Homo sapiens: one gene and its partners. The protein of the gene in region 6 interacts with the protein of the main gene of each other region in a pairwise test. Each region holds a gene or a part of one and is shown on either strand. Other genes may lie near its edges.

Region 1 (3,500 bases), on a different chromosome or scaffold from region 6:
TGCACTCCAGCCTGGGCAACAAGAGCAAAACTCCATCTCCAAAAAAACAAAAACCACTAGTAGTTCACAACATTTAATGTAATGCCCCCGGTATATTGCCAAGTAAATATGACATGTTGAGTATTCATGCTCAGGGTCTCATTTACAATATGGAAAGCCAGGTGTAGAAGCAGCAAAGACACTCTTGCTTTGTCATCATCAGCATGCTTTGCTCAGCCCTTCCCTCCCCACAATCTGCAGTCATTGATGTCTCACATGCAAGATCATTCTTCTTGCTGGATGAATCGGGTGCCATGATGTTAAGTGGCATCATTGTGAACAGACTGTTATTCTCTTCCCACACAAGAGGCTCTGTGTCAACTGAAATGAATGGGATTCTATTTTTGAGTGTTTTCTTTAGAATGGAACAATAGTCTGTCGATGTCTTATACCATTAAGGTATCTAGCCCCGCAAAGTTCAGATAATTTTTATAGACTTTTCAACATCTTGTTTTGTCGAAGCAAGCATTCATAAATTTGTGTTTCTAATGTTAATGAGGAACGGGTGTATCTAAGTGTATAGCTAAATTGTGCTTAGAGCTGTGATAATATTCTGGGGTCCCTTGGGTGAGTCTAGACTCAGTTTTCTGCTCCACTTTTCTTTTATCCAGGTTTATTTTCTGCAAAGCAGTTTAGCTAAAACCAGCCCAGTTCTGAACCTCTGGTTGAGTTTACCTTTATATAATGAGGTACTCTCTTAGCCTGTGGTCTGTTGATGATAGGTGATTTTGCCAAATGTGCATACCTGGGGACCTGTTGTTTTGCAGTCCATTTGACGTGGAGGACATGACCGCATCCTCAGGCGCTGGGAACAAGGCAGCAGCCCTTCAGAGGAGAATGTCCATGTACAGCCAGGGTACCCCGGAAACGCCCACCTTCAAAGACCACTCCTTCTTTGTAAGTTCAGTGTAATTTCCCGAGTAGAATCAATGCACCTGAGCCAGTGCTTGCACCCAGCATTTGAAATGCTTAAGAGACAGTGCTGGGAGTTAGTAATTCTATCAGAGGTGGTGAGCCTCCTCTGTTTTTCCTCTCTCCTTGCCCACCTTACCTATTGCTGTGATGGTAACATGTAGATTTTTCTGAACATTCTCTAAGATCAGCCTTTTAAAGAAGTGCATATAAATAATAGCCTCCTTGTTTTAATCAAAAATGCTTGCTAAAAAGCTAACAAAATGTAGTAACCTGATTCTTCCCACTAACTCCCCCATCTTGCTTTCACTTCTGAAGAGGTGGCTGCATCCTTCCCCAGACAAGCCCAGGCGGCTGTCTGTCTTGAGTGCCTTGCAAGACACTTTCTTTGCCAAGCTGCACCGCAGCCGCTCCTTCAGTGACCTGCCCTCCCTCAGGCCGAGTCCCAAGGCCGTGCTAGAGCTCTATGTGAGTGTGGCCTGCCCGGGTATGGAGTGCTTGACTTCTGGGGCTTGTGGCATGTGTGACTTAGCATGTCTCTTGTTTTATCTTCTCTGTCTTGCTCACTGGGTATGGTTACAGCTGTACTGTCCTTGGGGCGGGACACTTGGTCGTGCATGTAACTTTGATAGAGACGCAGTTTGTCCTTCTCTTCTAATGATCCCTGTTTTTGTGCTGTGATTTTTCTCCATTGTGGCAAAGATATCCATGGTAACAAGATTTTAAACAAGTTTAAGCCTTTCAAAAACTGGCATTCGGCCCAGCATGGTGGCTCACGCCTGTAATCCCAGCACTTTGGGAGGCTGAGGTGGGTGGATCGCTTGAGCTCAGGCATTCAAGACCAGCCTGGCCAACATGGTCAAACCCTGCCTCTACTAAAAAATACAAAAATTAGCCAGGAATGGAGGCATGTGCATGTAGTCCCAGCTACTTGGGAGGCTGAGGTGAGAGGATCACTTGAACCCAGGAGGCAGAGGTTGCAGTTAGCCAAGATGGTGCCATTGCACTCCAGCCTGGGCAGCAGCAAACTCCATCTCAAAAACAAACAAACAAAAAATTGGCATTCAAGGAACTCAAAAGGATTTCAATGAATTTTACTAGAGCTACTTCTATTTGAAAGGTTCTCAGTCTTAGTTTATTATAATGTTTGTTAATTCTATAACACTTCGATAAAAAGATATCCTTAATTCACAGTCAGGAATACAATAAGTATTATATATTATACATTATGTCACCAGAGGATACACACACACATGCATGCACACACACATACATGGAACATCCTGCTCTTCACAGATGTATAAAACGAAGCTTTGAGTGTCAACAGAGGAAAGGATTAAAAGTCTTTGGGTTCATAATAATAATAATTGCATCGTTTTCATTGAATTAAAAAATGCAGGTGAAGGCTGAACATGGTAGCTCACACCTATAATCCCAGCACCTTGTGAGGCCAAGGCAGGTGGATTGCTTGAGCCCAGGAGTTCAAGACCAGCCTGGGCAACAAAGTGAGACCCCGTCTCTACAAAAAATTTAAAAATTACCCTGTTGTGGTGGTACACACTTGTGGTCCCAACTACCCAGGAGACTGAAGCAGGAGATCACTGAAGCCCAGGAGGTTGAGGCTGCAGTGAGTTATGATTGCACCACTGCAGTCCAGTCTGGACAACAGAGCAAGACCTTGTCTCAAAAAAAAAAAAAAAAAAAAAAAGGCAGGTGAAAAGGACCAGGCTAAACTCTGGTGGAGTTTTCAGGGAAAATGGGAAGATTGTATGGGGGAAATACACATGAAAACATGAACCAAAACACAAAGAGCTAACACAGCTATACACGCAACCGTTAACATAACATGTATATTCATGCTCATATGTTCATGTGCTACAGGTTGGGGGTTGTGGGCGAGAGTTGGTAGAGGTTTCACGTCATAATTTAAATAAGAACAAGGTTAGAAAACAACTGGATGGCTTTCCTGATAAAACCTTTTAGATAAATGCAAAGGTCCTCAGAGCGGCTGTTCCCATCTGGCCACAGCCCACCACAAGCCCATCCCACGTTTTCACTCTCTATCCTCTGCTGGGGCCCCTTGGAGCTTCTCAGTGTCCTCCAAATGCACCACCTCCTTTCAGGAGCTCATGTCTTTGCATGTTGTTCCTTCTAGAACGCACTTCCTCCGGTGCCTGCCCCCTACTTCACCATCTTCCACACTGAGCTCCAGGATTGGCTCTTTCACAGGCAGCAGCCACTCCCTCATTGGGGCCCTTCCCTCATGATGTCATCCCTCAGTTATAGCGTGTACACCATTGTACTGTTGTGTGCTTGTTGTTAGACTTGTCCCCTTGGTAGACTGCAAGTCCCCTTGGGCAGGGCATCTCAATTTATTCTCACTCAATATTTGCCACTTAAGTAGGTGGAAATTGAGCTTGAGTCTTGGAGTCTCAAGACAAATGGCTGGGAAGGACTTTGGAATTTGAATAAGAATCCTGACTACCCAATCTCCCTGCCATACCCAGTGTCTCCCACCTCCCTCTGTGCTGCCATGAGATGTGTGCACA
Region 2 (3,500 bases), on a different chromosome or scaffold from region 6:
GCCTCCCGAGTAGCTGGGACTACAGGCACCCGCCACCAAGCCCGGCTACTTTTTTGTATTTTTTTTAGTAGAGACGGGGTTTCAACATGTTAGCCAGGATGGTCTCTATCTCCTGACCTCGTGATCTGCCCGCCTCGGCCTCCCAAAGTGCTGGAATTACAGGTGTGAGCCACCACGCCTGGCCCCAGCCCTACATGATTTCTAAACTGTGTTTATGAATATATACACACATACGTATGGTATATGATCAGTATAACTGTGATTATTAAAAATATGAAATAGGAGCTAGGCTTGCCTAATATCTGAGGAAAACTAGACGAAAAAGACCCTGAAACAAAAGCAAAACAAAAAAATTCCTTTATACATTGTGTTTTGAATGATTGGAGTAGCTCAGAACTGCCTGTGAACAAGGGCAAAAGTGGAAGTTAGCCTTGGATTTAGAGAAAGTTGCTGTGATCTCTCTGCCCATCCCCCCAACCACAACCACTCTCCAATCCAAAGCAGAGTGCATCTTCATTTCACTTTGGGTAGTCAATGAAAATGACAGCTGAAAAAAATGTGTAAGTAGTAGGCTGGCCTGCTCTGATGCTATCCCTGGAAGTATTTTGGCCAAGTGACTAAGAGAGGTTAAGAATTTGTCAGTGACTATTGTCTTTAAGGATAAGCAATCTGCCAAGAGTTCTCTGAATTTCTTGTAGAGTTTTGTTTAAAGTTGGAATTAGGTAAATGTCATACACTTTGTTACACAGCCTCAAAAGGCAGTGTATTTCAGTGGATTAAGTAGAAGCTTGAAAAATGATGGTGACTCACTTGGAGTTACTTTTCATTATGTCTGTTTATTACTTTACTTGCCATCTATGAAATAGGGCTGAGGCTAGCAGATACATTTTTTTTTTTAATTTTTTTATTTTTGGCTGGGGTAGAGATGGGGTTTCACTATGTTGCCTAGGCTAGTCTCAAACTCCTGTACTCAAGTGATTCTCCTGCCTTGGCCTCCCAAAGTGCTTGGATTACAGGCATGAGCTACCATGCCCAGCCAGAAGAAGAATCTTTTTCTTGACTCTGTTGGGAGTTGAGAGCTTTATAAGTTGGAAATCAAAGGATTTTAGAATGACAAGGGTCAATTTTGTTTAGTTTAGTTTTTGACTAGAAAATTGAGGCCACGGAAGGGTGATGATAGGAATTTGGGAAAGTCATGTGGTTATTTAATGGTGGACCCTGGACTGGACCTCTAATCTGTTGCTGTCTACTTAGGCAACAGTTTTCCTTTTTCCCCACCGACACCTTTCCCCCATGTCACTTCCTTAGCTAAACAATGAACTTAATGGGAAACAGAGCCTGGACATCTAAGAAGCTTTAAAAAAGCCTTTTGTCATTTTCTCAGGTAAGATTATTCCTAGGTATATGATGTAATCACTTTCTGCAACCTCCTGAAGGCACCTTTCCTGAGCATTCACAGCTTTCCTGTGGTGTTCAGGTGTCCTGTGGTATTCAGATATTCCTTTAGAGTAACAATGACTAGGGCATGGTGGTGCCCACCTGCAGCCACTACCACCCCCACCCCATCTCTAAATAAAAAGTTTTTAAAAATTAGAGTAACAGTGAAGCAGATTGAATGTTAAAACACCTAGCCTCTGAAAACCACTGTGTTCATTCATTATTCCTGCTGTCCTCTCAATCTCATGAATCAGGCTGGGGTGTTGGGCAACCTGGCACACTGACTGAATACTGATCACATTAAATTTTTAAAAGGTCTCTGATTATAAATAGAATACATGCTTTCTATACATAAACCAGAAAATGGGGAATTATAAAGAAGAAAGTTATCTAGCTTCAGTAGAATTTCCCATCTTTACTCTTTCGCAAACATTCTTGTAAAAATCTTTCATTTGAGTAACGTGATTTTATAAGAAAAAAGATTTTATCCTCCTCTTAAATACAATTCAGACTATAACATTTGGCTGCCACGTCTCATTTTTAGTGACAATTTTAGTGTTTTGCCTTTTCTCAAATGTGTGACAGAAAATTATTTTTGTCCAAGTGATCCATGCACTTGGTAACAAATCCAATATACAGGAGGACATTTGTTGAAAAACAATGGTTTCCTTCACCTCCTCAAGGCTCACAGAGGGCAACTTTTAATTTTTTTCAACTGTACCCATATTTAATTCTTAGATTGTTACCTTCTTAAGCTTAAGTAATGTGCTTTTACCACCATGTTTTGATTTATCAACTTTTAGCACCTGATATGAAAGTGAGAATGTAGCTCTTTAAGCTAGTTTTCTTTTTTCTCTCCCAGGTTTGATGTTTATAATATTTTAAATTTGTCTGTTAGGTCACCTTTTTTAAATAATCATCTTTTTTTTTTTTTTTTTTTTTTTTTTTTTTTTTTTTTTTTTTTTTTTGAGATGGGGTCTGTCTCTGTCACCCAGGCTAGAGTGCAGTGGGAATCATAGCTCACTGAAGCCTCAAATTCCTGGGCTCAAGTGATCCTCCCACCTCAGCTTCCTGAGTAACTACGACTATAGGTTTGCACCACCATATTTGGCTAATTTATTTAACTTTTTTGTAGAGACAGGGTTTCCTATGCTGCCCAGGCTGGTCTCAAACTCCTGGCCTCAAGCAATCCTCCCACCGGCTTCCTAAAGCACTAGGATTACAGGTGTGAGCCACCACACCTGGCTTTTTCAACTTTGGATAGTATTTCTTGATTCCTTATGCTGTATGTCAGTAATGTTTGGATTGCTACCAGTTCTACTGTTCACTTTTTGACAATGTTGCTTTCCACATTGCCAAAGCCCTGAACCCATAACCTGTATTTGTGCTTTGCCCCAAAGTTGACCATCTTATTCGTATATGATTCTTAAAGTTGAAAATCCATAAGGCCGGGCGCAGTGGCTCATGCCTGTAATCCCAGCACTTTGGGAGGCCGAGGCGGGCGGATCACGAGGTCAGGAGATGGAGATCATCCTGGCTAACACCGTGAAACCCCGTCTCTACTAAAAAATACAAAAAAAAAAAAAAAAAAAAAAATTAGCCGGGCGTGGCAGCGGGCGCCTGTAGTCCTACTCAGGAGGCTGAGGCAGGAGAATGGTGTGAACCCCGGAGGCGGAGCTTGCAGTGAGCCGAGATCGCGCCACTGCACTCCAGCCTGGGCAACAGAGCCAGACTCCATCTCAAAAAAAAAAAAAAAAAAGAAAATCCATAGGCAACATTTACATGACTACAATTCTGTGAAATGATTCATTGCCTTGTGTGTCAGGATTGGATTTTAGACTTGCACTGTGGGTCTGGTTTTAGGATTCCTGGGCCAATCAAAGGATGAGATATCTAGCCCCAAAGTCAAATGGGATTTTTTGTTTTCTCACTCTTCATCAGTTGTTTAAATTTGTGTTACCTTTTAGTTTTTTCATATTTGGACCATGACTTTCTTAAATTTTTTCCCTAGTATTTCTGATTGCCTTTTAATGTGTTCATGCATTATTTGCCATTATTATGAT
Region 3 (3,500 bases), on a different chromosome or scaffold from region 6:
GCCTTGGTCCCCTGGAGAAAAAGGGAGTCCAGCTCCTGCCTCAACCCCTACCTCTGTTTAGCAACCCTTGCGCCTGCCTCAGAGCCTGACCTGGCTCCTTCCCCACAGTTTAGCCTGTGGGGCCCTTGGATGACCCCCCCCCCCGCCCACCCCCGCCTGGGACCTGGGACATAGGACAAACACTCCAGCCTGTTCTCTGTCCCACTTCCTGCCTGGCTGCCTGCCCTCCCCAGGGTGCCTTGGGCAGGCCTGGCCACTTTCCCCTCCCTGGGAGCAGAGTCATCTTCTCCAGGGCCTACTGGGAACAGGCCTGAGAAGGGGCAGCAAGGCCTGAGGGCTGGGGTATCTTGTCCAGGGCCAGCTCAGCTGAGGGCAACCCACATTCCTCCTGATCTCTTCCCACACAGTGACTCAGCAGCCTACCACCCCACCCCCATTCAGGCACAGCCGCATCTCCCTCCCTTGGCCTGGAAGATTCTGGGACCCTAGAAGAACACACCTACCCCAGAGCCACCCCCGTCAGGGATCCCCTCGAATCACACACATATAGAACAGCTCATTCTTTGAACATTCATGACCAGGCTGGTTTCAGATGCAGAGGACCTAGGAGGAATTAGACACTGCCTCTGCCTTCCCTTCCTTCCAGCCCAGTGGGGCAGACGGGAAGACAGACAGACGAGTCAGAAAAAGCTCACAAATGAATGTGGAATCACAACTTTCACAGTGCTAAGAAAGGGGAGGGGCAGAGTGCTATAAAGATAAACGGGAAGGGAAAACATGTTACACCTGGTAACTGCTTACACACCCAGGTATAAGGTTGGGTATGCACTGGCCAACACAGGCTGAAGCAGCACAGACCCAGAAAGGTCAGGCCCACCACGCTGTCCTGCCTCCTTGCATGCTGTAATCCCAAGAGAGCAGAGAATGTCCCTCTCCTTCCAGGACACCTGCATCCATTTGGGGAAGGGTCCTGAAGGTTAAATAGTCCACCTTCTTTTTTTTTTTGATATGGAGTCTTGCTCTGTCTCCCAAGTTGGAGTGTAGTGGCACAGTCTTGGCTCACTGCAACCTCTGCCTCCTGGGTTCAAGCAATTCTCCTACCTCAGCCTCCTGAGTAGCTAAGGTTACAGGCGTGCATCACCATGCCTGGCTAATTTTTGTATTTTTAGTAGAGACAGGGTTTCAGCATGTCATCCAGGCTGGTCTTGAACTCCTGACCTCAAGTGATCCACTTGCCTCTGCCTCTCAAAGTGCTGGGATTGTAGGTGTGAGCCACTGTGCCCGGCCAATGGTCCACATTCTCTAGCCTCCTCAGCCACTTCACCTGTCCAATCCTGCCAGGGCCCCATTTCTGGGGAGGAGGTCCAGGGAAACAGGTAGTCCAGTGCCTTCCAGGACAGTGTCTCCCCACCCCCAGCTGTCTGTCCTGGGTGGAAGTGTGGGGTGGTAGGCTAGAGTCAGGCAAGCAGCAAAGAGCAGGAGACTTCCTGCTAGCAGGATGGCACATGTCCCTCACACCCCGGCCCCTTCCTGGGGTCACCCTTCTGAGAGCCAAACCTCTGGGCCTTGTTTCTCACACCCTGGGGCTGGGCCAGGCCTGAATAAGCCCAAACCCTGGTCCTTGCTGACGGGGCTTAAGCTCAGCACGTAGTATGGGCCCACTTCCCTGACACCTTCTTGGCTCTTGTCTTCCTCACTTCTCTGGTCTCTGTCTTGGGGTGGAGTCTTTCCCCCATTCTTCCCAGGCTCAGCTTCTCACATTGGCCTCCAGCCCACTATACTCTTGACTTTCCAGGCTCAGGCTTTTCTGGCAGCCCAAAACCAACTGGTTATGTATGGTTTTATATGCAGGGTCAAGCCCAGGGGACCATGGCATCTACTTCTCTCTCTCTTTCTAGCTATCTATCTACCTATGTATAATATATAGATATAGATCTATAATATATAGATGTCTATAGATATTGATAATTTATATATATAGCTATGTATCTATTATATATATCTAGACATCTATTACATATATCTATTATATATTTTATAAATATACATTTTTCCCGCTTGTTTCTTTAGACTGTCTTACCCAATATTTTTAATAACAGTGTAATCAGGTAAGACTGAACATACCAGAGCAGGGTACAGGGAAGATGGAAAAGAGGCAGGATTATAGGCTGAAGGGCTTTCATTTTAGAAAATAATTGGTTAACTGCCTCTTTTGTCTCCTTTCCTATAAACACAGGACCCTGTGTTCTGAAGACCCTCCTTTCCTGTTATCGCAGGTCTCCAACTAGAGTGTGACTTCCTGAATGAGATGACAAGGATGGGCCTTGGGGAGGGAAATCCACTTTTGTTATCTTATGCTTCCTCTGTGCCAGGCACCGGACTGCCTCTTTTTTTTCTTTTCTTTTTTTTTTTAATAGAAATAGGGTCTCGCTATATCACCCACACTGTTCTTGAACTCCTGGCCTCAAGCAATCCTCTGGCCTTGGCTTCCCAAAGTGCTGAGATTACAGGCATGAGCCACCATGCCCAGCCTGAGCCGCCTATTTAATTTGATTCTACCAATAATCCTTTTACAGATAGGGAAACCAAGAATCAGAAAATCAGCGCATTGCCCCAGGGTGCACAGCCAGGAGCCAGGGCTAATTGACCAAATCTTGGGCGGATGGGCCCTGGAAATGCTCCAAGGAACCCTAGAGGGGAAGTGGAGTGAGGGCTGGGGCCAGAAGGATTGCCAAGAGCTGAAGACATCCTCTTAGTTTTCTGGACTCTGCAAATACCCCATACTGGTCCTCCCAGTTCCAGTAAGGGAACACCAATAGACACACGCACCCCATGCAAGTTAGGATAATAGTATCTACCTCTGCCAGGACCTAGGTGTCAGGGTCCCTCACCAGTCTGCAGCTCAGCCACTCTGTTCCAGAATGACCAGCAGATTGGATAGTCCAGCCCCAGGGGAGGCTAGGAGGAGACCAGGACTCATGCCCACACCTCAGTTTTCTACAGTCTCCCAAAGGCTCCTGAGATGTAAAAAGGCTAGAGTGGGTTGGGGTAGGGTCAGGAAACATTCCAGGACAGTGCCACCCCTGTCCTACTCTGATTTTTAGCCACAGCTAGGGAAACAAAGTTGCTAGTAATGACCAGATTTCTAGGGCTATCCCCACTGTCAGGAGGAGAGGGCTTTCCTGGCCTTTGCAGCAGGGTCAGAGAAGCACCCCAGATCCCCCTACCCGGAGCTCAGGGAGAAGTCAGTGCTATACCAGGTGTGGTAGGGCCTTGGGTATCGGAGAGGCTCCTGAGACACTTCCCAGAAGGGAGGGTAGAACTGGGAGGCTCTAGATTAGGAGATGAGATGCAAGGCCAGAGGGACACATTCTCCCCTCTGGCAAAGGCAGGTCTGGGCTGGGGGAATATTTTGGAGGGGAGGAAGGCACTCCTGAGTTCCCCCAGGGACACTAGGCCCGGCCCAAGACACTGTCAAGCTCCCTTCCACCAACCAGGGC
Region 4 (3,500 bases), on a different chromosome or scaffold from region 6:
GTAGAGACAGGGTCCCGCTATGTTACCCAGGCTGGCCCTGAACTCCTGGCCTCAAGCAGTCCTCCCGCCTCAGCATCCCAAAGCACTGCGATTACAGGTGTGACTGGCAGTAAAATGAAAGAGATGGGGTTCTTGAAGGATATGCGCAGTCAATCTCGTTGTCATTTGTTTCACAAGTAGCCCAGGAGTCGGGGACTCCCAGGGCTATGGTGCCACCTCTCTACAATTCTTCATACAAAGTGTTGGCTGACCTCTGCTATTTGTACTAGTATAACAGACAGACGAGAGACACACTCCAGCTTGATCTCAGTGAGGATCTTTATTCTGTCCTGTGTGACATTTTTGTTGATGCTCCACTGTTTGAGGGTCACACCAGAAGGTTGAGTCCAAAGAGGGCCAGTTGGTCGTCCCAAATAAGTGATTCTCAACCGAGGGCAGTTTTGCCCCACAGGGGGCACTTGGCAATGTCTTCATTGTCAGGACTCGGGATCACTACTGGCATCTAGTGGGTAGAGGCAGAGATGCTGCTGGCCATCCTCCAGCCACCCATGTCAAAGGATTATGTTCTGAAATGTTGGTTGGGAAATCGTGCTCTGGATGATGAGGTTTGCCTCTTTTTCTCCCTGGAGGAAAGTGCTCATTATTTCTGCTCTGTGAGGGCGGGAGCCTTGTTTCTTTTGCTTCCCCGTCCTTCTCCCCTAAGCTGTAAGACAGCTGTTTCCCTGACACCTGTAACAGTGTTTCTGGCACGCGGTCAGTGCTCAATAAATATTTGTGGGGTGTTATTGAAGGTAGTTCTCCCCTTTGGTAGGTGTTTTGCTATTATAGACAGTGCTGCCCTGAACTTCGTAGAACAGAACATCTTTGTGGCCACCTGCGTGTTTTTTTTATAGAATCCAGGAAATGGAATTACTGGGTCAAAAAGCACATGTATTTGAAATTTTGTTAGATATATTTGTAAAAAGTTATTGAAGATACTCAGCCCTACGCCTAGGTACATGCCCCTGGAGAAAGTCACACATGTATACACATACATCGTGAAGATTCAGAGCAGAACTTAGGAACAGAAGGTTGGAAACCACCTGTCCATCAATAGGAGACTGGTGTACTCATACTGCAGAGAAAATGAACCCGTGACACCTACCCATGTTAATGTGGATAAAATTCACGAAGCAAAATGAAGTAAAGAAACCCAGAAAAGCCCTTTCAAGTTGCAGGAGATGATATCATTTATATAAAGTTTAAAAACATTTCAGAACTGAACTATATATTTTTAGAAATATCTGCATATGCCACATAAATTTTTAAAATCATAAGAATGCTAAACAGCACATTCAGGACAGGGTGAAGAAACAGGCATGCAGGTTGTGCAGTAGGAAGCTGGGTAACATTGTTCCTTATGGCTTTGTTGTCGCTTCCAGAATTTCATTAAAAACTTTTTAAAAAACATGGGCCCACATTATGAATTACGTCTGCTTTTAGAGTACTAAAAACTCCAAGCAAAAACACATGGGTAACGCCGGGCACGGTGGTTCATGCCTGTAATCTCAGCACTTTGGGAGGCTGAGGCGGACAGATCATGAGGTCAGGAGTTTGAGACCACCCTGACCAACATGGTGAAACCCCGTCTCTACTAAAAATACAAAAATTAGCCAGGTGTGGTGGCAAGCGCCTGTAATCAGGGCTACTCAGGAGGCTGAGGCAGGAGAATTGCTTGAACCTGAGAGGCAGAGGTTGCACTGAGCTGAGATAGCGCCACTGCATTCCAGCCTGGACCACAGAGCGAGACTTCATCTTAAAAAAAAATTAGCTGGTCATGGTGGCACACACCTGTGATCCCAGCTATTCAGTAGGCTGAGGCAGGAGAATCATTTGAACCTGGGAAGTGGAGGTTGTGGTGGCACTCCAGCCTGGGCGACAGAACGAGACTCCATCTCAAAAAAACAAACAAACAAAAAGCCAGCCGGGTGTGGTGAGGCAGGTGGATCGCCAGAGGTCAGGATTTCGAGACCAGCCTGAATGGTGAAACCCTGTCTCTACTAAAAATACAAAAATTAGCCGGGGCGTGGTGGTACGTGCCTGTAATCCCAGATACTTGGGAGACTGAGGCAGGAAAATTGCTTGAACTCGGGAGGCGGAGGTCGCAGTGAGCCAAGATAGTGTCGCTCCACTCCAGCCTGGGCGACAGAGCAAGGGTCCGTCTCAAAAGAAAAAGAAAAACCTCACATGGGTAAAACTGTTAGGAAGGCTCTTATCTCTTCACTGGTCATGAAATCAACTTAGTGGATTATGACTAGTATTTTTTAAAAAGTGATGTAGAATAGGGCTGGGCGTGGTGTCTCACGCTGGAAATCCCAGCACTTCGGGAGGCCAAGGCAGGTGGATCAATCACTTGACGTCAGGAATTTGAGACCAGCCTGGCCAACATGGTGAAACCCGTCTCTACCAAAAAATACAAAAATTAGCTGGGTGTGGTGGCAGCTACTCCGGAGGCTGAGATGAGAGAATCGCTGAAACTGGGAGGCAGAGGTTACAGTGAACTGAGATCGCACCACTGCACTCTAGCCTGGGTGACAGAGTGAGACCCTAATCTCAGAAAAAAAAAAAAAAAATGATGTAGAATAGATACAATCAGCGGGCATTTATATAGGGATGGTAAGTAGTTCCATCAACTTTATTTTATTTATGTATGCAGATATTTATATACACGTGTACTAGGTCATAATGTAAAATGTATCATTGTGGTCTCTGTTTTTGTTTTTGTTTTTTTCAGATGGAGTCTCACTCTGTTGCCCAGGCTGGAGTGCAGTGGTGCGATCTCAGCTTACTGCAACCTCCTCCCGGGTTCAAGCGATTCTCATGCCTCAGCCTCCTGAGTAGCTGGGACTACAGGAGTGCATCACCACGCCCAGCTCATTTTTGTATTTTTAGTAGAGATGGGGTTTCACCATGTTGGCCAGGTTGGTCTCGAACTCCTGACCTCAAGTAATCGGCCTGCCTTGGCCTCCCAAAGTGCTGGGATTACAAGTGTGAGCCACCAAGCCCAGCTTATATCACTGTGGTCTCTGGTCAGAAAGGTCTGGAAAATACCACCTTAGTACAAACACATTACATCAACTTTTATATGTAAGATGTAATTTAGAAAAAATGTCAATAATGGTTTTATGACGAGACTGAAATTGCAGACATGTTCATAAGCACAATGCTTCTTTTCTCTTTCTTGTCTTTCTGTACGTAAGCAACTAGAAGCCATTTGTGTCAAGGTAACGTCTGGAGAAACAAAAGGTCAGGAAAGGCCAATGCTCCTACCGACCACAATCCAGCCCCAAACTGCAAGAAAGAGCCAGCTGCCCCGGGGGAATTCCTGCCTGGTGGGGCTCCATATCGCCAGCCCTCAGCTGCTCAGGGTACAGCCGCTTGTGAGAACCGAGCCACAGTCCTGCTTCCTAAGTGACTTATGCCAACCTCCTGCTCAGGGGTTTGTACAGAGACCACTGCCA
Region 5 (3,500 bases), on a different chromosome or scaffold from region 6:
TTATATATATACATACACATATATTAAATGCATATTATTGTTTAGAATTCCAAAAACTACACTTAGATCACAAAGATTATAAAACCCTATTTTTTCCTCATCTAACACTTAAACCTTCTCTACATTCACTGGGTGGGAAGGAGCAAGATTTTTACTCTAAGCACTAGAATTTGTATTTTTAAAAAATCAGAAATAAGCACAAAGCATAATGGCAACATTGAATAAAACAGAAAGAACTAGCTATTGAATCTACAGTTGTGATTCTATTCTGAAGTCTTGAACTCCATTAAGACTCTTTCAAAATTCTCCTAAGAAAATGCATGTAAGCATATATTTTATACCTAATTTGCAGGGTGAGGGATTTATTGATCTCTTAAAACTGATCCATGAACAATGCAGGATTGGAATCCTATTTTTGGAATCTTTGGCTAACAGAAAGAAAACAAGCAAAGATATGAGTGAAACTGATCAAATTAGCCAGACTAGTTCCTGAAACAGACTGACTTCATTTAAGATTAACAAGGCTCCTCTCCTACTTCTTTTCTTCTTGAATAAAAGCAATCTGTAGACAACAATAAGGTTCTGCAAATAAGTTATGGTAGCACTTAAGTCAGGAATTGGGGAGGAGGGGAAAAATAGGCAAATTAACCACTATAAATGGAGTAATAAAATAGCTTAATTTTAACATGTAAAAATGGCTTTTGCGTTAATCAATCTCTTTACTTTCCAGTGCTATTCCTGAAAATTAAGGCTTTAAAATAAGACCATCTTGCTGTAGATGCTATAATTTAAGAAAATAATATGCCTAACACTTAAAAATCTTACTTGTTAAAGCATAATTTGGGTTTTCTACTTCCATCCGTTGCATCTGAGCACTCAAAAATACTTTAATATCTATCCCTTTGGCAAAGGATGATGAATTAAAAAATCTGGAAGGAATTTTAGAAGCAATATCTGGTTCATCACGTCCAAATCCAAGATTATAAAGAATTTCTTCAGGATCTTCCTCATAAAGTTCCAACAATTCTGAAACACTACAAAAAAAGGGGGCAAAAAAGGAAACATGAAAATATAAAATAAATTGATAGTCCACACCACATTATAAATGAATACATATTACTGATTTCCTGTGATAAAATCTTTTTTCTCAGCTTCTGCTCTGGAAACCATTATTTATTTTACCATGTTTACACATGTGTACTGGGGAATAAATAGCCCTTATAAAGGGTTCATTGTCTCAAGTTGCTAGAGTTGCAGAAAAGAGCTAACCCCAACGAACACAGTCAGAGATTCCCTACGTGATTCCTCACCTTATTTGTTTTGTCATTTTAAGAGATTCCCTGTAAAGCAGCTAAAACAAGTAGAAGACAGATGATGAAGAATAAGGAATGAACAGATTAAAGCAGAAATTAAAAGGAACTGAGGGACATTTTGTGAAATTTGAGCTTTTCTGTTATCCTTGTCCTAGGAGTGGCAATTGTCCTAGGAGGAACAATAAAGATAACAAGCTGATTTCAGAGAAGCGAGGGAGGAGCTTACTTTCAACTTCTCTCCAACCACTTCCACTCAGGAAGTAGGAGGAGTAAGGTACAGAGAGTGTGGGTTACACAAAGGTAACTACTCTAATCCTATTGGGAATTAAATATTTAGTATCCCTTCTCTCTCATACCAGTGATAATCCAAGCTTTCTAAGACTCACTGAAGAAAACAGGAAAGTTAGAGATGGAACTTCAACAGAGAGACATTTCAATTTGTTTCAGACAAAATGCTCAGATTCTAATATTATAATTTGGATAACAGTTTAAACTGGATTCCATAGGCACATGCACTGATGTATTTTAATATACTATATGTGCGGGCGGGAGAGGGGCAAGGGTATTTTTCTGTTTGGCTTTTTTGAGACAGCGTCTCACTCTGTCAGCCAAGTTGAAATGGAGTGGCACAATTATAGCTCACTGCAGCCTCAACCTCCTGGGTACCACTTCAGCCTTCCAAGTGGTTGTGACTACAGGTGGATCCCACCATACCCAGCTAATTTTTGCATTTTTTGTAAAGACAGGGTTTCGCCGTTTCCCCATATTGCTCAGGCTGGTCTTGAATTCCTAAGCTCAAGTAATCCACCCACTTTGACACTCCAAAGCACTGGGATTACCGGTGTCAGCCACTGGGCCTGGCTATACTATATATTTGAAAGATCTTTGGTTTAATGTGTTGAAAAAAAGTATGCTTAAATATCAAGCTGTAACTTAGAAAAATTTATTCTGATTTTTGTGTCAGAGTTAACTCAAGTCCTTAACAATGAATTTTGGTTCTCTACAACTACAAGTTACTCCGCTATGGAGTTCCTCTTTCAGGCTGTTGAGAGGGCTCAAAATACTCATTTATGGGTTCCAGCAGCAGTATAAGCCTATTTATTGCATTTTATTTAATCTCAAAGTAAAACAAAACAAAACAAAACAAAACAAAAAGCTCCTATCAGTTGTGCTGGTACAGGAAACGCTCTTTTTGTGTTCTTTCTGATTTCATATGATCAAGGTCAAATCCAAGATTGAAAAAATGATAAGAGTAGGTCATCTATAGCACAATGTAATTCCAACACAATTTCAGAATAAGTTACCTTGAAACTGTCCCACTACTTTTCCCAGATCCAGTGGAATTCATACTTCTCCCTTTCTGATGAAACTGTAATCTTCTCTCTTTGGCCAAGATATTATTGCTACGAACAAAATCAGATTATATAAAACTTTATAACTTTATTTTCATTAAAGGTCTTCATTTTTTAAAAGAAATAGAACAAAACAGCTACATACCAGTTTTCAATTTGAGCATCACTTTCATGGAGGTGGTTGGCTACAGGTAAAAACAATAAACGTAGAGCACAATTGTTAGTAGGACTATAACTACTATGATACAATTATCAAGAAATCTAATTACCTACAATATTAGAATTAAATGCCAAATATATTAAACACTTATCTTGGTCCATTAAATCTGCATTATTAAAAGTGATATACAGATAGATAAGAACAGGGCCAGGAGCTTTTGAAGGGTGTTTTTGTGTTGTGGCAACATGAAACTAACTACTCTCACTTGAGTGCTTAAAATAAAAAAACGTATAGGGAACCAGTTAAATTTCTTTAACAGGTTAGAAATAAGTAATGAGGAAGATATGTACCATATATGTGGTACTAATTATTAAATTTAAAAGCTATTAATGAATAATATCTTAAGAGGAAAACATGATTTAACATTAAGTGTGGCAATAGTATATGTCAGTTTCTAATGTGAATTTTTTTTAAGGTTATAACTGATTTTTCACACATATAACATGAAAATTTCTACTTATTTCAATATAAACTTTCTTTTAAAAATTGCCTTTCAACTTTATGATAGAACTTTAGCTTAAAGTTCTAAACAGGTAAGTGTTAATGTTTAAAGTTAAATTTATAGACAAATACAAAGAATAAAATTAATTATAAACACATCTATTTCAGCACACA
Region 6 (3,500 bases):
GGTGTGCTGCTGTGATCTGGTGCTGCTTTGACCTTGAAAGCAGGATAACGCATGCACTTACTTACCCCCGCATTACTTGGGTACCTTAAGGACTAGTGGTTCACAACTTACTTTAGGAGCTTTTATTTATTCTGTAACACGTGAGATCTGGTAAGACAGTGGGGGGTAAGGAAAACAGACAAGACCATGACTCTTCTTTCCCTCTTCCCCAAAACGTGCCTCTTGGAATAATCTTCAGTGTGCCCTCCAGCAGAGCCGAAATCAGGCAGGCATAGACTCCCTCCTCTCTCATCAAACCGCAGAAATAGAGTTCCTTCATCATAACCGCAAAGCTTCCTCCTCCCCTTTGCACCCTGCCTCAGCTGCATTTTCTTGTCGCTTCTACATGGGAGTGCTTGCTGTTCTGGGAAGAGTGGGGAGAAGCGGTGGGAATCCTTGAGCCAATTGAAACTGAGGTCATCTTCAGGAAAACCATGTCTTCCTGAAGTTGAAAGATTCAGGCACACCATACAGTCCTTTCCTCATGAATAATCTTGTTCTTTACTCATGGGAAATTGGGAGAGGTTAACCCCTCCCAAGTTTATGTTTGCAAATTCATGTTTATGGGTCCAGGTGAAAAACTTTTCTGAACACAGCATGCTACTTCTCTTATTACCTCTCTCTATTTAAAGAATGGCTAGGCTGAGCATGGTGGCTCACACCTGTAATCCCAGCACTTTGGGAGGCTGACATGGCAGGATTGCCTGAGCCCAGCAGTTCATGACTAAGCAACATATGGAGATTCTGTCTATATAAAAAAGTAAAAAATTAACTGGGTGTGGAAGTGCATACGTCTAGTCCCAAGCTACTTGGGAGGCTGAGGCAGGAGGAGTTGGAGGCTGCAGTGAGACGTGATTGTGCCGCTGTATCCAGCCTGGGTGACAGAAAAAGAAGAGACCCTTCCTTTAAAAAAAAAAAAAAGCCGGGCGTGGTGGCTCACGTCTGTAATCCCAGCACTTTGGGAGGCCAAGGCGGGCGGATCACCTGAGGTCAGGAGTTCTTGAGACCAGCCTGGCCAACACGGCAAAACCCTGTCTCTACTAAAATACAAAAATTAACTGGGCATGGTGGTGCACACCTACAATCCCAGCTACTCTGGAGGCTGAGACAGGAGAATCGCTTGAACCCAGGAGGCAGGGGTTGCAGTTAGGTAGGATCGTACCACTGCACTCCAGCCTGAGTAATAGAGTGAGACTCCATCTCAAAAAAAAAAAAAAAGGCTAAAGAATGTGGCAGTGTCCAATGGTTTGGAAACCCACCTTCTCCTTATCCTTAGCCAAGCATCTTTTCCTACTCCTACTTTAACCGTGCCCAATGCACAAGAAAACCTCTTTTTCCCTGCATTCTGCAAAATTCCAGAGCAACTAGCCTTGCTGATTGTATCACACCTCCATCAGCAACGTGATGCTGGGAATAGCGTACTGGCGAGCAGTTCCAATACTCTTAGGTGCTTTGTGAATGGACTGAAAGAGGCCCCTGCCTGTGTACCTACCGTCATCCTGAGTTGTTCAGCCTTAGCAGCAGCTACTGAAGAGAAACTGTTTTCATCACCCTATTATACCAAAACAAATGGCTAAACAAAACCTTGGAATCTTCCCTCTTGCATGGCTTCCCAGTTCATCCTCTTCTCATTCTGTGGCTTGCCATTCATCATCCCGTGAAGTTTTCCCTCTTCCTGAAATTGTAACCTAGGCTTCTTTTAATGCTCGTATTCTGTTGCTTATAATAGGAACCAGCAGCACAAACACTGTTGGGGCAACAGTGAACAGCCAAGCCGCCCAAGCTCAGCCTCCTGCCATGACGTCCAGCAGGAAGGGCACATTCACAGATGACTTGCACAAGTTGGTAGACAATTGGGCCCGAGATGCCATGAATCTCTCAGGCAGGAGAGGAAGCAAAGGGCACATGAATTACGAGGTAAGTCTCTCTTTTGCCGCAGAGAATCCGTAACACACATCTGAGTCAAGGTGATAGAAACAACTAAGCTGCTGCTTAACGTCTTACGCCACGACCTTCTTCAATTTTAATACTTTAGAAAAACAAGGCAAAAATCCCCCAGGTACCCTTTTATTTTTCCTTCCCTGAATTCCTAACCTCTTGTTGGTCAGCTCAACTTTTTCTTCTTCGTTTTTCCTTCGTCATCCTCAACTACACACACACAGACACACACGCACATGACATCCCTCCCTCTCATGAGGATTATTTTCACCCTTACTTGGTAAATATAAAGAGCCAATAAATACTACAGAAGACTGTTCTGCTGTATCTTACAGGATTATACTAGAAGTATATGTTAGCGCCACACATTTTATACCATGGCCCACACCAGACTTGACACGTGGTGGTTTTGTTTTCAGGGCCCTGGAATGGCAAGGAAGTTCTCTGCACCTGGGCAACTGTGCATCTCCATGACCTCGAACCTGGGTGGCTCTGCCCCCATCTCTGCAGCATCAGCTACCTCTCTAGGTCACTTCACCAAGTCTATGTGCCCCCCACAGCAGTATGGCTTTCCAGCTACCCCATTTGGCGCTCAATGGAGTGGGACGGGTGGCCCAGCACCACAGCCACTTGGCCAGTTCCAACCTGTGGGAACTGCCTCCTTGCAGAATTTCAACATCAGCAATTTGCAGAAATCCATCAGCAACCCCCCAGGCTCCAACCTGCGGACCACTTAGACCTAGAGACATTAACTGAATAGATCTGGGGGCAGGAGATGGAATGCTGAGGGGGTGGGTGGGGGTGGGAAGTAGCCTATATACTAACTACTAGTGCTGCATTTAACTGGTTATTTCTTGCCAGAGGGGAATGTTTTTAATACTGCATTGAGCCCTCAGAATGGAGAGTCTCCCCCGCTCCAGTTATTGGAATGGGAGAGGAAGGAAAGAACAGCTTTTTTGTCAAGGGGCAGCTTCAGACCATGCTTTCCTGTTTATCTATACTCAGTAATGAGGATGAGGGCTAGGAAAGTCTTGTTCATAAGGAAGCTGGAGAACTCAATGTAAAATCAAACCCATCTGTAATTTCGAGTGGGTGGAGCTCTTGCTTTTGGTACATGCCCTGAATCCCTCACTCCCTCAAGAATCCGAACCACAGGACAAAAACCACCTACTGGGCTCTCTCCTACCCTGCCCTCCTCCCTTTTTTTTACCCCTCTCTTTTTTATTTTTTCTTTGCTCTTTAGAACCCAGTGAAAAATACCAGGGTACTGGGGTGCAACTCTTTCTTATGATAGGTCATTAGTGCTTTAAGCAAAAGATATTAGCAGCTTTGACTGCAGCATTAGCAATTAGGAAAAAAAAAAAATTAAGTTCCCTGCGGACATGTAACTTTGCCATCAGTTTTGATGTGGAAACACTGTGATATATAAAATGTTGTTGGACAACAGTAGTTTTAAGAGTAAAATATGAAACGTTTAAAAAGTTCCAAAAAAAGCTAGCTCTGTCCTTTACTTATTGAGACAC
Region 7 (3,500 bases), on a different chromosome or scaffold from region 6:
GTACACTGCTATGAAGGCTGCTGAATGTGAGAGGGTTGATTCAGTCACAGGGACCTCTCAGTCTCTGAGGAGAGATAAAATCTATATTTCTCTCGTTTGTGTTAAAAGATGGGGGATGTCAAAAAAATATCAAGACAAGCTTCATGACTACATACAATTGTGGTTTTAGTGGTGAAAATGCTAGATATCCAAAGAGGGCAAAACCTAAGGGACAACCAAATAGAATAATCCATCTCCAAACCGGTAATGCTAGGTGAGAAATGGATATTTCATCTCACTGAACATTCCACATTTTATAGTCAAACAAGTAACATTATTTCCTCCAAATATAATTGGAATAAAGTCATGCCCATGAAGATATGTAAATAATAGATTTGTTGTAGAGATAAGGCTAATTACATCATAATCTCCAAAATGTGGTTAGCACGCTTCAAAATTTTTAAATTTTAGAAGCATAAGTGTAGGCTTTTCCTTCTATGTGACTGGATGAAAGATACATTTCTATCAAAATCTAAAACAAGACATTACATATGTGTAATTTTTCTTAACTATACAAATAACAAAGTCTTTGAACCTTATTACTTGAGTTTCTATGACTCAGGACTCAAGATTTGAAAAGAAATTCCTAAATACAGAGAAAGTGTCATACACCAGAGAAGACTGAAAAGGCAAGACAACTGAGTGCAATGTGGTACCCTGACTTGGATCCTGGGACAGAAAAGGATATTGATGGAACTGGTGAAATCCCATTAAAGCCTCTAGTTTAGATAATAAGAAAAACAAACAAACAAATTAACTAGTTCTGAAGATTATACATGATTGTGCATGATCTGATTTTTGTAAGCATACAATAAAAATATGTCCGTCAATAAAACAAATACCTATAAAATGATCAAAGAATGAACAAACTTAGATGACATCAAGTGTCCACCAATTTAGTAGATTTCATAATAAATTAGAGGGGTGAAAATTTAAGGAAGAGGCTTGAATGATATCCATTAGGGACATTTTCTTGCAAAGCAAATCCCAAAGGCAAGGGCATGAACTTATGATCTATTACCAGCCAGAGTTCAGAACTGTGAATAGAAAAGGAATTTACTTTCAGCTTTCAACCAGATTAGACAGTACCTTTTCCATGCAGACATTCTGGACCATTTACTCTGACCTATAACTGCACATTTTACATTTGCACTTTGTTTCCTTACCCTCCTTCAAATATTTTAATTCGGATTGGCTCAGTTTGTTTGGATCCAATATCTTTATCTCCATGAATATCTCCTTTCCCTCTTTCCTTTAAGATATTTCCCACTAGTTTCCTTTCTAGTTTGCTGCCAAATAAAAAGGACGCATCAGGTTTCATCTGTAAGACAAGAAGAGAGAATCATTTCACATGCTTTCTCCAAGACACAGGAGCCCCTATGTCCCACTCTTCCATCATCTCTGAAAATGAGCCTAAATTCTGTACTAAAAGGCCAGGAACTAGTTATATAAAATAAGGACCACTAGGGATAAAATCAGATAAGAATGACAGTTTCCACTGAATAAATTCAACATTCTGTTACAGCTATATATAATAAGTACATATATTATATATAAAAATATATAGATACACATATACACTCAGCACTCTGTGCAATGCTAATACTTAAAAGACACATTCTATGTTTTGAAGTAGCAATGAAAACAATCTATATTAATTAAGGAAGTAGTCTCAAAAATTATTGAAGGGAAAATGGTAACTGATAAAAGTGAAAACATATTTTTAAATCCTCTATTTGCCTCCTTATTAATTTAGCAGAAATTTCAAAATTCCCCTTAATATTTTTATAATTTTACATGGAAGGCATTGATGGTTCTTGTAGGAATAAACCAGCCAGCAACTTGGAAAAATAAGTTTTGAAGGAGACAGATGTCTCGTCAATGAGAGTAAGCCCTGCAGCATTTGCAAAGCTCGGTCCTCCTTCTTCGTCTTTCCTTTCAGCCTCCATTCCCTGCTCTATGGCCCACTTCACAATTCCCTGAATTCCTCACATCCAGAGAAAATTAGACCTGCTAGGTCACTCACAAAGGTCAGAAGGAAAATAACCCATGGGAATTAATCCCAGTGGTAGGATTTCATGGCACCCAAATTTTTAAATTTTAAAAGCATAAATGTAGGCTTTTTCTTCTGAAAATGGACCATGCCTGAGACCTCAGAACCAAGTGCAGTCAGTGGCTTCTTCCACTCCTGAGTAAGGCCAGACTTTCTGAAAACGCCCCCACACTGACCTTCATTTTACTTGTATTTTTTTTTTAGGCCTTATATCCTTCACTATGTAGTCTGCTCAGCAATCAAATCCACAATACAAAGTTCTTCCTAAAACAGTATTTGTTACCTGAGTAAACTGCTTCCAAGCACTTGATGATGTAAGCTTGCCGGTTCCAGGCCTATGCATAGCAGCCAGAGTATAAATTTCTGCAGTGATTTTTTGCTTGGACCTCAGAAGAGCCAGCGTGGTCTTGGTGTTCAATCCTGATGGGTTTGGATTACAGGAACTAATGCACCATGAAGCATAAACCGAGGATTTGAAGGTGGCCTGTTGCACATAATTGGGTTTTGTATAATTCAAGAAGCACCAACTCACAGTAGTTGTTGTCCGCAGACTGGGGAACTGAAGAATCTGCTGGAAATCTGCCATGTCCGTGAGAAGAAGAGTTGAGTCTGCCACGTTCCCGCTGGGGGCAGAGGCCATGCGGACCAGCATGCCAACAGGCCGCTTGTGGCCCTTCCCTTCCTCTTCCAGCTGACCATCTCCTGCTGGTAATGAAGAACTCTGTGGGCTCATGCTCATGTCCGATGCCGTCTCATCGATATCTAATTCATCTGAAGATTCTTTGCTTTCAGAAGGCCCACTGGACTTCTGCCCCGGAAGTGGTGCCCGGGAACCGGAAAGCATCTCCTTGCTGGGCAGGAATGGCTCCCTGGAAGACGGGCTAACAGAAGGATAGTCTTGAGATGAGGAGGGCGACAGCGAGGAGAAGGAAGATGACCCTGACTGCAAGCCATCTTTTGGCTCAGAAGCACATCCTTGTCGAACCAGCTGGGGTTTCTGGGGGCGGGAGAGGTCCTTTTTGATGTCTGAGTTGGTCAGCTCCACAGCACTAAGCTCCTCCACAATCTGTCCGTACATCTTTTCTTCTTTGACCCTTTTCTGCTGCTTGGTTTCCATGAAGAGCTCCAAGCTACTGGCTGGAGAAAGCATTCGCTTGCTACCTCCCAGGGTGGCCACGCTGTCAGAGGTGGAAGGTAAACACAAGGGGATGGAGGATTCTAAGCCGAGGGGCAAAGTCTGAGGTGCTTTCCAAATGGGGTACTTCTCCAAGCCCGCATGCTGCCCCAGCACCTGGGCAATGTTGAATCCTATCCCTTGCATGGCTGCGTTGGTGACCAGTGTCCTTTGGGTCATATTCTCATCGACTTTGCATATGACAATGGCAGGGCTATTCTGCCCAAGTATCTG

Evidence for each region.
Region 1: the proteins of WNK1 (region 6) and RIPOR2 interact in a two-hybrid assay, tested with the Homo sapiens proteins (one large-scale study listed by IntAct).
Region 2: the proteins of WNK1 (region 6) and WWTR1 interact in a two-hybrid assay, tested with the Homo sapiens proteins (one large-scale study listed by IntAct).
Region 3: the proteins of WNK1 (region 6) and FHOD1 interact in a two-hybrid assay, tested with the Homo sapiens proteins (one large-scale study listed by IntAct).
Region 4: the proteins of WNK1 (region 6) and ZNF839 interact in a two-hybrid assay, tested with the Homo sapiens proteins (one large-scale study listed by IntAct).
Region 5: the proteins of WNK1 (region 6) and ITPRID2 interact in a two-hybrid assay, tested with the Homo sapiens proteins (one large-scale study listed by IntAct).
Region 7: the proteins of WNK1 (region 6) and HIVEP2 interact in a two-hybrid assay, tested with the Homo sapiens proteins (one large-scale study listed by IntAct).

What each region holds. Positions count from the first base shown.
Region 1 is NC_000006.12:24,845,461-24,848,960, reverse strand, and holds part of RIPOR2 (rho family-interacting cell polarization regulator 2), read left to right. Parts: intron 1-806; coding exon 807-936; intron 937-1,269; coding exon of another isoform or gene 1,270-1,419; intron 1,420-3,500. UniProt on the Homo sapiens protein: Acts as an inhibitor of the small GTPase RHOA and plays several roles in the regulation of myoblast and hair cell differentiation, lymphocyte T proliferation and neutrophil polarization.
Region 2 is NC_000003.12:149,651,526-149,655,025, reverse strand, and holds part of WWTR1 (WW domain-containing transcription regulator protein 1), read left to right. Parts: intron 1-3,052; exon of another isoform or gene 3,053-3,500. UniProt on the Homo sapiens protein: Transcriptional coactivator which acts as a downstream regulatory target in the Hippo signaling pathway that plays a pivotal role in organ size control and tumor suppression by restricting proliferation and promoting apoptosis.
Region 3 is NC_000016.10:67,240,982-67,244,481, forward strand, and holds part of FHOD1 (FH1/FH2 domain-containing protein 1), read right to left. Parts: intron 1-3,500. UniProt on the Homo sapiens protein: Required for the assembly of F-actin structures, such as stress fibers. Depends on the Rho-ROCK cascade for its activity. Contributes to the coordination of microtubules with actin fibers and plays a role in cell elongation.
Region 4 is NC_000014.9:102,322,746-102,326,245, forward strand, and holds part of ZNF839 (zinc finger protein 839), read left to right. Parts: exon of another isoform or gene 1-19; coding exon of another isoform or gene 20-97; intron 98-2,773; exon of another isoform or gene 2,774-2,936; coding exon of another isoform or gene 2,937-2,960; intron 2,961-3,239; coding exon 3,240-3,500.
Region 5 is NC_000002.12:181,898,230-181,901,729, reverse strand, and holds part of ITPRID2 (protein ITPRID2), read right to left. Parts: intron 2,851-3,500; coding exon 2,811-2,850; intron 2,717-2,810; coding exon 2,618-2,716; intron 1,035-2,617; coding exon 826-1,034; intron 1-825.
Region 6 is NC_000012.12:906,079-909,578, forward strand, and holds part of WNK1 (serine/threonine-protein kinase WNK1), read left to right. Parts: intron 1-1,768; coding exon 1,769-1,956; intron 1,957-2,396; coding exon 2,397-2,714; 3' UTR 2,715-3,500. UniProt on the Homo sapiens protein: Serine/threonine-protein kinase component of the WNK1-SPAK/OSR1 kinase cascade, which acts as a key regulator of blood pressure and regulatory volume increase by promoting ion influx.
Region 7 is NC_000006.12:142,767,177-142,770,676, forward strand, and holds part of HIVEP2 (transcription factor HIVEP2), read right to left. Parts: coding exon 2,376-3,500; intron 1,361-2,375; coding exon 1,206-1,360; intron 1-1,205.